Homo sapiens: one gene and its partners. The protein of the gene in region 2 purifies or fractionates together with the protein of the main gene of each other region. This does not show direct contact. Each region holds a gene or a part of one and is shown on either strand. Other genes may lie near its edges.

What was found. Proteins that work in one complex are often made in the same cells at the same time.
Region 1: the proteins of PGLS (region 2) and UNG fractionate together in Homo sapiens (co-fractionation; one large-scale study listed by BioGRID). This does not show direct contact.
Region 3: the proteins of PGLS (region 2) and IMPA1 fractionate together in Homo sapiens (co-fractionation; one large-scale study listed by BioGRID). This does not show direct contact.
Region 4: the proteins of PGLS (region 2) and ACO2 fractionate together in Homo sapiens (co-fractionation; one large-scale study listed by BioGRID). This does not show direct contact.

What each region holds. Positions count from the first base shown.
Region 1 is NC_000012.12:109,100,531-109,104,336, forward strand, and holds part of UNG (uracil-DNA glycosylase), read left to right. Parts: intron 1-1,371; coding exon 1,372-1,469; intron 1,470-2,308; coding exon 2,309-2,397; intron 2,398-2,902; coding exon 2,903-3,081; intron 3,082-3,806. UniProt on the Homo sapiens protein: Uracil-DNA glycosylase that hydrolyzes the N-glycosidic bond between uracil and deoxyribose in single- and double-stranded DNA (ssDNA and dsDNA) to release a free uracil residue and form an abasic (apurinic/apyrimidinic; AP) site.
Region 2 is NC_000019.10:17,517,877-17,521,682, reverse strand, and holds the end of PGLS (6-phosphogluconolactonase), read right to left. Parts: intron 740-3,806; coding exon 602-739; 3' UTR 395-601; downstream 1-394. UniProt on the Homo sapiens protein: Hydrolysis of 6-phosphogluconolactone to 6-phosphogluconate.
Region 3 is NC_000008.11:81,659,130-81,662,391, forward strand, and holds part of IMPA1 (inositol monophosphatase 1), read right to left. Parts: intron 1,539-3,262; coding exon 1,387-1,538; intron 338-1,386; coding exon 222-337; 3' UTR 1-221. UniProt on the Homo sapiens protein: Phosphatase involved in the dephosphorylation of myo-inositol monophosphates to generate myo-inositol. Is also able to dephosphorylate scyllo-inositol-phosphate, myo-inositol 1,4-diphosphate, scyllo-inositol-1,3-diphosphate and scyllo-inositol-1,4-diphosphate.
Region 4 is NC_000022.11:41,475,551-41,479,356, reverse strand, and holds part of ACO2 (aconitate hydratase, mitochondrial precursor), read right to left. Parts: intron 1-3,806. UniProt on the Homo sapiens protein: Catalyzes the isomerization of citrate to isocitrate via cis-aconitate.

The sequences.
Region 1 (3,806 bases), on a different chromosome or scaffold from region 2:
TTGGTTTTGAAGCTAAATTAAATCCTATTAAGATCAATACTAATTTGCTTCTTGTTTGAATGCCCTATTCTGAATACCAGTAATCAGTATAAACAGGGAATATTAAAAGGAATATTTTGAGGGAATGCTCAAAAACCAGTTTCAAACCTATGAGGATCAGATGGGCCAGCAGGGCTTCTTGACAGACCAGCATTGGGAGAGTTGTTTCACAAGAGAATATGTTGGCATGGTGTGAACACCAAGGGGAGGGACAAGAGGTCCCCAAAAGCCTCCTGGTCATGGAACATCTGGAGCTGGATTCTGAAAGATAGAGTATGTCAGCTGTGGAGGAAGATTCTAAGAACGCAATGGCAGAAGCTTGAGAATGAAGACTAGGTGGGTGGGCCCTGGATGGGAAGGACGAGGCGGCCTATGTTTCAACACCTCCCGTGACAGGAACTTCATTTCATTTCATTGTCTCTTGCCACCTACTCCCATGGCCCTTTTGATCTGACCTCATTCTCTTCTGGCTCCACCTGTTAGAGGATATAGGGGAGCAGACACCCTCATATGCTGCTGGTGGGAAATCTGAATTGCTTTTTTTTTTTTTTTTTTTTTTTTTTTTTGAGATGGAGTGCAGTGGTGCAATCTCGGCTTACTGCAACCTCCACCCCCTGGGTTCAAGCGATTCTCCTGCCTCAGCCTCCCGAGTAGCTGGGACTACAGGTGTGCGCCACCACACCCAGCTAATTTTTGTATTTTTAGTAGAGATGGGGTTTCACCATGTTGGCCAGATGGTTTCGATATCTTGACCTCGTGATCTGCCTACCTCGGCCTCCCAAAGTGCTGGGATTACAGGCGTGAGCCACCATGCCAGGCCCTAAATTGCTTTAATTCATCGAAAAGTAACTGGGGGCTAGGCACAGTGGCTCATGCCTGTAATCCCAGCATTTTGGGAGGCCGAGGAGGGAGGATCCCTTGATCTCAGGAATTTGAGACCAGCCTCAGCAACATAAGGGAGGCCGTGTGTCTACAAAAAGTAAAAAAAAAATTAGGTGGGCATAGTGGTGCACTCCTGTGGGCCCAGCTACTCTGGAGGCTCAGGTGGGAGGACCACTTGAGCCCAGGAGGGCGAGGCTGCCATGAGCTGTGATGGCACCACTGCACATCAGCCTGAGCAACACAGCAAAACCGTGTCTCAAAAAATTAAAAAAGCAGCTAGGTACATATCTTTACAAGTTTAAAATACGCTTAGCCTTTGACCAGCAACTCTGCTATTAGCAATCTATGCCATAGAAGTGTTTTATTTGTTTTGTTTATGTTTGTTTGAGGCAGGGTCTGTGCTGCTTACATTACAGTATTGTTTAATTCCTGACCCCTGGTGGTTCACAGGTGAAGGTTGTCATCCTGGGACAGGATCCATATCATGGACCTAATCAAGCTCACGGGCTCTGCTTTAGTGTTCAAAGGCCTGTTCCGCCTCCGCCCAGGTACAGTTGCTTTACAGGTGACTGCAGTCCAGACATGATTCCTTTCAGATGTGTACTTAGCTTATTACAAGTGGGACTATCTGGGGCACTGTTCACTAGCCTTGGAGGAGGATTTCTCGGCCTCAGCACCATTGACATTTGGGGCTGAGTCATTCTTTGTTGTGGAGGAGGAGAGGAGTCCTGTGCTATTGCAGGATCTTGTGCCACATCCCTGGCCTCTACCACTGGAAACCAGGAGCAACCCCCAGCTCGTGATAATGAAAAATGTGCAGACATTGCCAAAAGTCCCTTGGGGGCGTAAAATCACCCCTGGTTAAGAACCACTGCTTTGGGCCGGGCGCGGTGACTCACGCCTGTAATCCCAGCACTTTGGGAGGCTGAGGCAGGAGAATCGCTGGATCCCGGGAGGCGGAGGTGGCAGTGAGCCGAGATCCTGCTACTGCACTCTAGCCTGGGTGACACAGCAAGACTGGAAAAAAAAAAAAAAGAACCACTGCTTTTGGAGGATTTGGTGTATGATATACATAAATATGCTAAGGACAGAAAACTGTCCCTGAGCAACAGTGGGGGTCTGGGTTGTAACTGCTGGGTTGATTTACTTAGGTTTTCCAGAGTGCTGTTAAATCCAAGTACAGACTAAAGTAAAGGTCTTTGGCAGAGTCACCTGTTAGAAGGAGGACTGGCAGTGTTGATCTCATTAATCGGCGCCATATGTGCCAGTGTCCCTTCCAAGGGCTGGCTGTAACTTCTAACCTTTTCACATATGTCTTAGACGTTACTGAGCTTTCAAAATTATGCTTAAGATTCTGTTTTTTGTTTTTCTTGTGGCTTGCTTTCAGTTTGGAGAACATTTATAAAGAGTTGTCTACAGACATAGAGGATTTTGTTCATCCTGGCCATGGAGATTTATCTGGGTGGGCCAAGCAAGGTAAGCCAGCGACTGCTAGATTTTTTTTTTTTTTTTTTTTTTGAGACCGAGTCTCACTCTGTTGCCCAGGCTAGAGTGCAGTGGTGCAATCTCAGCTTACTGCAACCTCTGCCTCCCAGGTTCAGGCGATTCTCATGCCTCAGCCTCCTGAGTAGCTGGGACCACAGGCATGAGCCACCATAGCTGGCTAATTTTTTAATGTATTTTTAGTAGAGACAGGGTTTCACCATGTTGGCCAGGCTGGTCTCGAACTCCTGACCTCAGGTGATCCGCCCGACTCGGCTTCCCAAAGTGCTGGGATTACAGGCATAAGCCACCACGCCCAGCCCCGACTCCATTGTTGATGGTAGTGGCTGCTGCCATTATGCCGGCTGCAGCAGGGAAGCACAGCTTGCTACACTGGATCCCATCAAGCATTGGTTTCATCATGGATTTAGCTCCTGTTGCTGGGTATTGGGCTGATTTGCCTGAGCCTACATTTAACCTGTTTCTCTCATGTGTATAGGTGTTCTCCTTCTCAACGCTGTCCTCACGGTTCGTGCCCATCAAGCCAACTCTCATAAGGAGCGAGGCTGGGAGCAGTTCACTGATGCAGTTGTGTCCTGGCTAAATCAGAACTCGAATGGCCTTGTTTTCTTGCTCTGGGGCTCTTATGCTCAGAAGAAGGGCAGTGCCATTGATAGGGTATGTTTTGTTTTCTTTCTTTTTTTTCTTTTTTTTTTAACACTATAAAAACAATGTAAAGAATTCTAGGAGTCCCTGCTGTGTTTGGTCCTGGAAAATCCATGTTATAAAATAACTTTTATTTTCCCTTAGGCCTGTTATAAGGGTTTCCCATTGAAAACTGAGAAGAATTTGGACAAATTATAGGGGTGATGAGTTGTGTATGAGGAAAGCAAAGCAACTGGCCAACTTGTGACTGAATGCAGTTGGTGCTGTAGGCATGAACTTGGTGTCTACAAGATACAAGTCCCTGGGTACCATTCACTTAACAAGTGATGGATGAGGCATGTTTCTGGCTTCCAAGAAATTTGGGAACATATAGAAAACACAAAGAATTCCACTCAATCACAAATTTAACTTGCCCATGAAAATACTATCAGTGATCATTATTGTTTTGTTTCTGGGTTTTTTGTTTTTTGATGGAGTCTCGCTCTGTTGCCCAGGCTGTAGTGCAGTGGTATGATTTTGGCTCACTGCAACCTCCGCCTGCTGGGTTTAAGTGATTCTGCCTCAGCCTCCCGAGTAGCTGGGACTACAGGCGCCCGCCACCACACCCGGCTGATTTTTTTTTATTTTTTAGTAGAGACAGGGTTTCACCATGTTGGCCAGGCTGGTTTTGAACTCCTGACCTCAAGCGATCTGTCCTCCTCAACCTCCAAAGTGCTAGGATTACAGGCATGAGCCAC
Region 2 (3,806 bases):
AGACGGGGTTTCACTGTGTTAGCCAGGATGGTCTCGAACTCCCGACCTCGTGATCCACCAGCCTCGGCCTCCCAAAGTGCTGGGATTACAGGTGTGAGCCACCGCGCCCAGCTAATTTTTGTATTTTTAGTAGAGAAGAGATTTCACTATGTTGGCCAGGCTAGTCTCGAACTCCTGACCTCAAGTGATTTGCCCACCTCATCCTCCCGAAGTGCTGGGATGACAGGCGTGAGCCACTGTGCCCAGCCTGTTGTCTTAGGAAATTCATCCATGGTGGCTATGCCCCAGGGAAGCAGGCCCCGCCTTCCTCCCCACAGATGAGGGCTATGGATCAGAACCCAGGCCAGGGCGCCCCCAGGCCTGCTGCCATCAAACACCGCGAGACAGTGCAGACTTCCAGCAACGCTCCTTTTAATATCCGGATGTCCAGAGCCACAGCCTGTGTGTTGAGCCCCGGGTAGGGCTGCTGGCCGGAGGCTGTTGGCTTCCAGCAGCAGCACGACGTGGCTTTTTGAAAGGAGAGCCCGGAGAGTGGCGGCCAGCAGGGGCCCAGCCCCATGGGCCGCGTGCCTGGTCCCAGCTGCGGCGTCCCTCTGGCCAGCTACAAAGTGGAATGCTTCTCGAAGGGCACGGTCAGGAGGCGGGCGGCCGCCTCGTCCAAGAACCAGCACAGTTTCCCGGTGTGGGGCTGGACCAGGGCGGCGGGCAGCGGGTTTTCCTCCTGGTCCTCCAAAATGCGCTGAAGAAGAGGGCAGAAGAGTAAGGCCCTGCCTGCGGCCCAGGCACCGCCCCTCGGCACTCTCCTGGCTCCCCAACCAAGGATAAATAAGACTCTTGTATCCTCAAAATGTGACAATGCCCAGCTCAGCTGTCCTAGTGCCAAACAGCAGGGACAAGAGTCCCTTCCTTTCTATCCACTGTAACTATTTTTATTTATTTATTTATTTATTTTGAGATGGAGTCTCACTCTGTCTCCCAGGCTGGAGTGCAGTGGTACGATCTTGGCTCACGGCAACCTCCGCCTCCCGGTTTCAAGCGATTCTTCTGCCTCAGCCTCCTGAGTAGCTGGGATTACAGGCAAGTGCCACCACGCTCGGCTAAGTTTTTTTTTTTTTTTTTTTTTTTTTTGAGATGAACTCTCGATCTTATCCCCCAGGCTGGAGTGTGATGGCGTGATGGTGCGATCTTGGCTCACTGCAACTTCCGCCTCCCGGTTTCAAGCAATTCTCCTGCCTCGGCCCCCCAAGTAGCTGGGATTACAGGCGCCTCCCACCACACCTGGCTAATTTTTTTGTTTTTGGTAGAGACGGTTTCATCATGTTGGTCAGGCTGGTCTAGAACTCCTGAACTCAGGTGATCCACCCGCCTAGGTCTCCCAAAGTGCTGGGATTACAGGCGTTAGCCACCGCGCCTGGCCTAATTTTTTATATTTTTAGTAGAGACGGGGTTTCACCATATTAGCCAGGCTGGTCTTGAACTCCCACGTTGAGCCACCATGCCCCGCCCACTGTAACTATTTGCATTTTTTTTGAGACAAGGTCTTGCGCTGTCATCCAGGCTGGAGTACAGTGACGGCATCAAGGCTCACTGCAGCCTCAATCTCTGAGGCTCAAGTGATCCTCTTGCCTCAGTCTGCCAAGTATCTGGGACCACAGGCACATGGCACTGTGCCCAGCTAATTTTTTATTTTTTGTAGAGACAGGGTCTTGCTATGTTGCCAAGACTAGTCTCAAACTCCTAGACTCAAGCAATCCTCCTGCCTCAGCCTCCCAAAGTGCAGGCATGAGCCACTGTGCCTGGTCTGTAACTGTTTAATACTGCGGTTGGCACCCTTTTTCAGCAAAAGACCAGAGTCAATAGATTAAGCTCTGCAGACCATCCAGTCTCTATTGCAACCACTCAGCTCTGCAGTTCTGGCCCCAGAACAGCTGCAGACAATATATACATAAGCGGGTGTTGCTATGTTCCAATAAAACTTTTCTGGGCCGGGTGCGGTGGTTCATGCCTGTAATCCCAGCACTTTGGGAGGCCGAGGGGGGCGGATCACTTGAGGTTGGGAGTTTGAGACCAGCCTGGCCAATGTTGTGAAACCCTGTCTCTACTAAAAATACAAAAATTAGCTGGGCGTGGTGGCAGGTGCCTGTAATCCCAGCTACTTGGGAGGCTGAGGCAGGAGAAGCACTTGAACCCGGGAGGTGGAGGTTGCAGTGAGCTGAGATGGCGCCACTGCACTCCAGCTTGGATGACAGGGTGAGAAGCTGTCTCAAAAAAACAAACAAACAAAACAATTTCTGGACACTGTAATCTGAACTTCATAGAATCTTCACAAGGTCAAGGAGTATTATTCATTTGATTTTTTTTTTTTTTTGAGACTGAGTTTCGTTCTTGTCGCCCAGGCTGGAGTGCAATGGCATGATCTCGGCCCACAGCAACCTCCGCCTCCCGGGTTCAAGTGATTCTCCTGCCTCAGGCTCCTGAGTAGCTGGGACTACAGGCGCACGCCACCACGCCTGGCTAATTTTTGTATTTTTAGTAGAGACAGGGTTTCGCCATGTTGGCCAGGCTGGTCTTGAACTCCTGACCTCAGGTGATCCGCCTGCCTCAGCCTCCCAAAGTGCTGGGATTACAGGCATAAGCCACCGCGCCCCGCCTGATTTATTTTTTTTGGAGATGAGTTCTCGTGATGTTCCCCAGTGCAGTGGTAATTCACAGTTGCAATTACATTTCACTATAGCTTCGAACTCCTGAGCTCGAGTAATCCTCCTGCCTTAGCCTCCTGAGTAGATGGGATGATAAGCATGGCCTGGCTCTTCATTTGACTTTTTTCCAACCACTTAGAAAAGTAAAAACCAGGCTAGGCACGGTGACTCATATCTGTAATCCCAGCACTTTGGGAGGCCAAGGCAGGTGGATCACATGAGGTCAGCAGTTTGAGACCAGCCTGGCCAACATGGTGAAACCCCCTCTCTACTAAAAATACAAAAATTAGCCAGGCCTGGTGGCAGGCGCCTATAATCCCAGCTAGTCAAGAGGCTGAGGCAGGAGAACCGCTTGAACCTGGGAGGTAGAGATTGTAGCGAGCTGAGGTCACATCAGTGCACTCCAGCCTTGGCGACAGAGGGAGACTCTGTCTCAACAACAATAACACAAAAAACAAAAAAAAAATAAAAATATATTTCCAGTTTCTTCTGTAGTTGTTGGTCTTTTCAATGAAGGCAACTAAAACCTTTTTAATTATTTAGTTTATTTTTAATGCTGTAATGAATTTGTATTTTCCTAAAATACTTTACATAACAGTACCTTTTTTTATTCATAATACCACGTGATTTTTTTTTCTCTTGATTAGCCTTGTCAGGAGCTTTTCTATCTTTTAGATCTACTTACCATTAAAGTTTAAAATATATTAACCAACTCATTAATTTCTGACTTTAATTTCACTTAGTCCTGCCACTGACTTTTGTAGATTTATATTATTGTCCTTTTTCTAATTCTACAGGAAAGCACTTGATTTATTTCAATAGTTTGCTACTTAATAATTTTTTTTAAATGCATTTGAATGCTATTAATTTACCTCTGAATGCAGCTTTGGCCTCATCTCATCAATTTCATTTCATAGCGGTTAATACCTAACTAGCCTTTAATTGCAATTTTCTGGGGTTTTTTTTTTTTTTTTCCTTTTTTTCTAATTGCAATTTCAAGTTACCTTTCAACCCAAGAATGACTGAGTTTTCTTCAGATCTGATGCTTCAGCACAATAATGTCTGGGGCCATTTTCTGTCCCTGGGGCCCACATGCCCATGAACTTC
Region 3 (3,262 bases), on a different chromosome or scaffold from region 2:
CTAAAGTACATTCTTACATGCAAAATTTTTTAAATCAGTGAAACAAACATTATGTCAATTCTTGCAAACCTAGACATAGTAAAATAAGAAACAAGTTCCAAATTTTTGACCTGGACAAAGAGAATTTAAACCAAGCATATCATACATCCAAAACACATATCCATTGATGAGTCACCAAATCTGGGGAAAAGCAACTGGGATTGACTATGAGGCTGCCTTAATTAATCTTCGTCGTCTCGTTGCAAAGGTATAACCTGAATTTCTTTAGCTATCCTTTCTGCTAATATTCTATTATTTGCAGCAATTACTCTTCGTGACATCAAATCAAATGGTCCACCTAAAAGCAAACAAGTATGAAAAATAATTTTATCTGGTACAAAAATAATTCATATAAAACAAGTATAGCAATATGTACTATGGTCACATAACATTTTAATACTTTCAGTTTTCTTAAACAAAAATCTACTGTTACATTTCTACAATGTATAAGCTTAGACAATATATAACTGTTTCTAAGCATAATTTTTGAGTAAATAATGAAGTCATACCAGTTAGAAAATGTCATATTTTCTCTATTTTTGTGCATTCTTATTACCTCTTTATTGTTTAAGAATCTATGGACAGAAAATGTGAATCCAATGCATTTTCATACCACTGTCCTTCCCATTTCCTTATTTCTTTGTTGCCTTTCTCCCAGATCACTGGTGAATTCTTTCAGCACAGATTCACCCTTCGGTTTAAAATTTTCACCATCAGTTGAAAGCAATTATTTAACTTCTCTAGTCTCAACACAGAAAGTGATGGTGGAGGAAGTCCATCATCAACTATCACCATTGTCACCATTCAAAGAGCTCTGGGTATAAGCCTCAGACTCGGTGACTGTCTAGGCCAAGGGTGTCGAATATTTTGGCTTCCCTGGGCCACACTGGAAGAATAAGAATTGTCTTGGGCCACACATAAAATACACTAGCACTAATGACGGCTGATGAGCTAAAAAAAATTTTTTTAATCGCAAAAAACTCATTATGTTTTAAGAAAGTTTACAAAGTTGTGTTGGGCCACATTCAAAGCCATCCTGAGCCACATGTGGCCCATGGACTGCAGGTTGGACAAACTTGGTCTAGGCTTTTTCTACAGCCTTTCAGGAGTACCTGAAACTCACACTAGAAAAGGATTAGCCATTTATCATTGTAAGTCTCACATTACCATTACCTCTTATCCTTACCTCTATCTCCTAAAGCTTATTTTGATTTTGCACACAATTATATAGCTTGTTTCTGCTTCAAAAACTGCAGTATAACATATATCAAAAAGTTTTTTAAATTCTACATATGGACAAAAGTCCAACAGATGTGTGGAGATCTGCTTCACTCTCCATAATTTTACCTGTAACATCCATTAGCACGCCACCAGCTTCAGTAACAATAATGCCAGCTCCTGCAACATCCCAGCAGTGAATTCCCATTTCATAATATGCATCTGCTCCGCCAGTTGCCACAAGGCACATATTAACAGCTGCTGTTCCAACACTCCGGATCCTAACAAATAGAATTTAGAAATAAAATTGGAAAAAATAATCCTTTCAAGTAAGATATTCCTCCTTAACTTCACTTTAAGTGTCGATTGAAGAAACTTGGAACGATCTAGAGGATAAAGATTTTAAGAGGTGATATCTAATTGTAAAATAAAAATATGTATAAATCTAATTATCATCGTATATTATATAAATCACAAAACCCTCACAAAGCAATAATTTAATAAGATAAACATTAAAACAATAATTTTTCATAAAAAATAAAGACAATGCTTAATTCTACAATAATGAAATGCAAGTATATTAATATTTGTCTAAATCCAGCTACTAAAGCTTATATTATTTTACACACATATACACATACCCACAATGCAAATAGTCTCTAGGAGGTGTAAAATATCATGGTATGGGTCATTTTCAACTGGGTGTGCGTCATACATGTGCCTAAAGCAACAACAGCATGCCAGGCTCTGCAAAGACCTAAGCCTGCCTTGGAAAATTACTGCAGGTTTGCCCTCTCATAGCACCTCTTCCTTGAATACAAGTTAAGTTGAATATAAATACACTTGATAGCAATTATAGTAATAATTTATTCAGTAAAGAATCAATGTTAAAATTAATGGGTGAGTCTGATAATTTACAGAGTGTCAAAGTGTCTCTCCACAAGATACATAATAAGTACAATGGAAAAATAGCATCTTTACAATGGTCTACCATTACCAAGTTATCCAAGTTAATATCACTCATAATGGGACAAAAAGAAATGTGCCTGATAAAATGCACTGAGAAGGACAGAACATTACTTTTGCGGCATTCCTGCCAAAAATCCATGATCCAAATATAATCATGAGGAAACCAGACAAATTCAAATTCAAGAGACAGACTACAAAATAATTGGCCTATACTTCTGAAAAATGTCAAGGTGATAAAAGACAAAGACTAAGCAAGTTCTAAATTAAAGGAAATTGATGAGAAATGACAACTAAATGCAATACATGACTCTAGACTGGATGTTGGATTAAAATTTTCAAAATTTGAATAAAGTCTTATATTAGATTATGTATCCATGTTAATTCCCTTACTTTTATCATTGTACTGTGGCTATGTTAGACAATGTCCCTTTTATTAAAGACACACACGCTGAAATGTGTATTTAGAAGACAAACGTCATCATGTCTACAAGTTACTTTCAAGTGGTTTTTACACAAATTCCTTCTCCAACTGTTTAAAGCGATGGTAATAAGGGAGTGAGTTCTGTTCAATGAGATCTTTCACAGTTTATTTATTTAAAAACATGGAAAACTGATGACTAATGTGGCATTTGTTTTATATCTCAAAAATAAAAATAAAAAAATTGCACCTAAGTACATCCTTTATGCCAAATAAATTTTAAAAAGGATTAGAATAACATGATGTCATTGATTTGGCATGTTTTCCATCATATGTTTTTGAAGCACATTAAATTTGAGAAAGTAGTAGTAAGTGCACCAAATTTCCACAGATGTTTGTTTCCCAGATAAATAAAATCAAATTAACTTTAGTGGCAGTTTTTTAGTTATAAAGAAAAGTGCATTTCCCCACTTCTCCCATGAGATATGTGATATTTGATATCTCATATCATAGAATGCAAATACCAAGGTCTTTCATAATTAATTCCCTGGTACTCTATTCAGATATAGAATCCTAGGCTAGCCAAACAACAGTGATATCTACTAGCGGTGCTTCCGT
Region 4 (3,806 bases), on a different chromosome or scaffold from region 2:
TATTTGTAAAACAAGACCTAGTTCTGTGACTGGCACAGAGGGCCTGATTGCTCAACAGATGGTGGGTAATGCGTTTCTCCGCTCCTCCAGGCCTGGATGGGCATCTGTCATTGTCTGTGGGCGGACCAAACACACCACCACTACATCCATGTTCCAGGACGGGTGGCTGAGGCTGTACTTAGTCCCACCCAGCAAATTCCCCCACCTACTCCTTGCTTCAGTACCGTGTATTATAGCTATTTAGATGACTTCTCCCTCACCACCCTAAAAGCTCTTCCACAGACAGGGCCCTTGTCTTAGAGCTCTGTGAACACACTCATGACACAGTGAGTGCTTATAAATACCACAACCACAGATGCCCTGCAGAAGGTCAAGGAGCCCGGCTACAAGGAACTAAAGAAGTGTGGCATACAAGAAAATTAACCAGGTGTGGTGGCGCATGCCTCTGGTCCCAGCTACTTGGGAGGCTGAGGCAGGAGAATTGCTTGAGCCCCAGAGGCAAAGGTTGCAGTGAGCAGAGATCGTGTCACTCACTGCACTCCAGCTTGGGCTACAGAGTGAGACTCCTTCTCAAAAAAAAAAAAAAAAAAAAGAAGATATGTGGCAGGGACAGGGCGGGGGTTTTAAAGGAACTCTAGATACCTCTTTGGTAAGTCCCACAAATGCCCACAGAATTAAAGCTCCCAATCAGAAACCATCTCAATCTCTCCAGGGGGAAAGCAGAAATACTCACCAGGCCTCAATTCACCAAGGGCCTAGACTTGAATATTTCATGATAAAAATAAATACTGCAAATATAACTCTAAAGCTCACTTCCCCAATGTTGTCCTTAGAGAATTAAAAAACTAAACCAAAAGATTCATTTCTACCTCTTCCCCCAACTCTTTTAAAACAGTATTGAAAGGGTTTTCTTGGCCAGGCGCAGTGGCTCACGCCTGTAATCTCAATATTTTGGGAAGCTGGGGCAGCTGGACCACTTGAGGTCAGGAGTTGGAGACCAGCTTTGCCAACAGGGTGAGACCCTGTCTCTACTAAAACAAAAAATACAAAAATTAGCTGGGCATGGTGGTGCGTGCCTGTGATCCCAGCTACTTGGGAGGCTGGGGCAAAAGAACTGCTTGAACCCAGGAGGTGGAGGTTGCAGTGAGATCATGCCACTGCATCCAGACTGAGCAACAGAGCGAGACTCTATCTTGAAAAAAAGGTTTCCTTGAACAACTACCACTTACCTGCTATCTGGGGAGATGATGGGAGGAACAAGCAATTTTCACAACTGGTTTGGTTTTTTTTTTGAGACAGAGTCTCGCTCTGTTGCCCAGGCTGGAGTGCAGCAGCGTGATCTCGGCTCACTGCATCCTCTGCTTCCTGAGTTCAAGCGATTCTTCTGCCTCAGCCTCCCAAGTAGCTGGGACTACAGGCGCACACCACCATGCCCGGCTCATATCTGTATTTTTAGTAGAGACGGGGTTTCACTACATTGGCCACACTGTTCTCAAACTCCTGACCTCGTGATCCACCCATCTCGGCCTCCCAAAGTGCTGGGATTACAGGCGTGAGCCACTGTGCCCGGCCACAACTGGTCTTTTTTAAACGTATGAGCTAAGGATAAAGGCTGGGGTGATGGATGCCGCGGGCCATCTGCAGGGGCTGGAGACAGAAATGAATATTCACCAAGTGCCTCTACCCTGCACTGGATTTGCCCCAAGTACTTTATCCACACAATCCCACGACTACCCTGTGAGGCAGAAGGCATTGTGCCCATTTAATGGATGAGGAAACTGAAGCTCTGGAATGCTAACTGTTTTGCCCAGGGTCACGCAGCAAGGTGGAATTCCAGGCCTGGCTCCAAAGCTGGTGCCCCTTCCTCTGGCCCAGGTGCTGCAGAATAAAACTAAAGAGGTCGGGTGCGGTGGCTCACGCCTGTAATCCCAGCACTTTGGGAGGCCGAGGCAGGTGGATCACAAGGTCAGGAGATTGAGACCATCCTGGCTAACACCGTGAAACCCCATCTCTACTAAAAAAAAAAATACAAAAAATTAGCTGGGCGTGGTGGCGGGTGCCTGTAGTCCCAGCTACGCAGGAGGCTGAGGCAGGAGAATGGCGTGAACCCGGGAGGCGGAGCTTGAACTGAGTGGAGATCGCGCCACTGCACTCCAGCCTGGGAGACAGAGCCAGACTCCGTCTCAAAAAAATAAATAAATAAATAAATAAATAAATAAATAAATAATATGGAAACCATTCTCCCTACCTTTAATTTACTTGGGAGGCTGAGGCAGGAGACTCGCTTGAACCTGATTCTCCTGCCTCAGTCTCCCAAGTAAATGGGATTACAGGTACACGCCACCATGCCCAGTTAATTTTTTGTATTTTAGTAGAGACAGAGTTTCACCATGTTGGCCAGGCTGGTCTTGAACTCCTGACCCCAAGTGATCCACCCACCTCGGCCTCCCAAAGTCCTGGGATTACAGCCGTGAGCTACCATGCCTGGCCCATTCTCCCTACCTTTCAAGACTTCCAAAATGAAGATATTCTACAAGGGGAAAATCTGTCCCTACTCTCAATCTTAGAAATGGCCTATTCCTAAAATAATATCAGAAACTATTTGCAGTGTGTGTGTTTTTTTGTTTTTTTGTTTTGTTTTGTTTTTGAGACAGAGTCTCGCTCTGTTGCCCAAGCTGGAGTACAGTGGCGCAATCTCGGCTCATTGCAAGCTCTGCCTCCCAGGTTCAAGCGATTCTCGTACCTCAGCCTCCCGAGTAGCTGGGTCTACAGGCGACCACCCACACACCCAGCTAATTTTTTTCTATTTTTAGTAGAGATGGAGTTTCACCATGTTGGTCAGGCTGGTCTCAAACTCCTGACCTCAGGTGATCTGCCTGCCTTGGCCTCCCAAAATGCTGGGATTACAGGTGTGAGCCACTGCGTCTGGCCTTTTTTTTTTTTTTTTTTAAGACAGAGTTTCATTCTTGTTGCCCAGGCTGGAGTGCAATGGCACAATCTTAACTCAGTACAACCTCCGCCTCCCAGGTTCAAACGATTCTCCTGTCTTAGCCCACAAAGTAACTGAGATTACAGGCATGCGCCACCACACCTGACTAATTTTGTATTTTAAGTACAGACGGGGTTTCACCATGTTGGTCAGGCTGGTCTTGAGCTCCTGACCTCAGGTGATCCACCTGCCTTGGGCTCCCAAAGTGCTGGGATTACAGGCATGAGGCACCACACCCGGCTCACAATGCTTTATAACACATCAAACAGAGTCAAAACAACTTTTCAAATATTAGGCCTTCAGAACCCTTCTTAACTGAAGGGTAGTTATTAATTACACTGTTTTGCAGATGTGTAACTAACTGCAGGACCACAGAGAGTTGAGACTTTGCCCGAAGCTACCCAGTAAGCCAGTGGCAGAAGTCTCCTAAGGCTCCTGAGGGTCCATCTGCTGCTTTTTTTTTTTTTTTTGAGACAGAGTTTCACCCTGTTGCCCAGGCTGGAGTGCAGTGGCGCGATCTCGGCTCACTGCAACCTCCACCTCCTGGGTTCAGCTGATTCTCCTGCCTCAGCCTCCTGAGTAGCTGGGATCACAGGCATGCGCCACCACGACTGGCTAATTTTTTTTTTGTATTTTTAGTAAAGATGGGGTTTCACCATATTGGCCAGGCTGGTCTCGAACTCCTGAGCTTGTGATCCACCCACCTCAGCCTCCCAAAGTGCTGGGATTACAGGCGTGAGCCACCACGTCCGGCCCATTTGCTGCTTTTTAAAGGCTACAAGAAGTCTCTCTACAATACCTTCCTTCCTTCATGCTG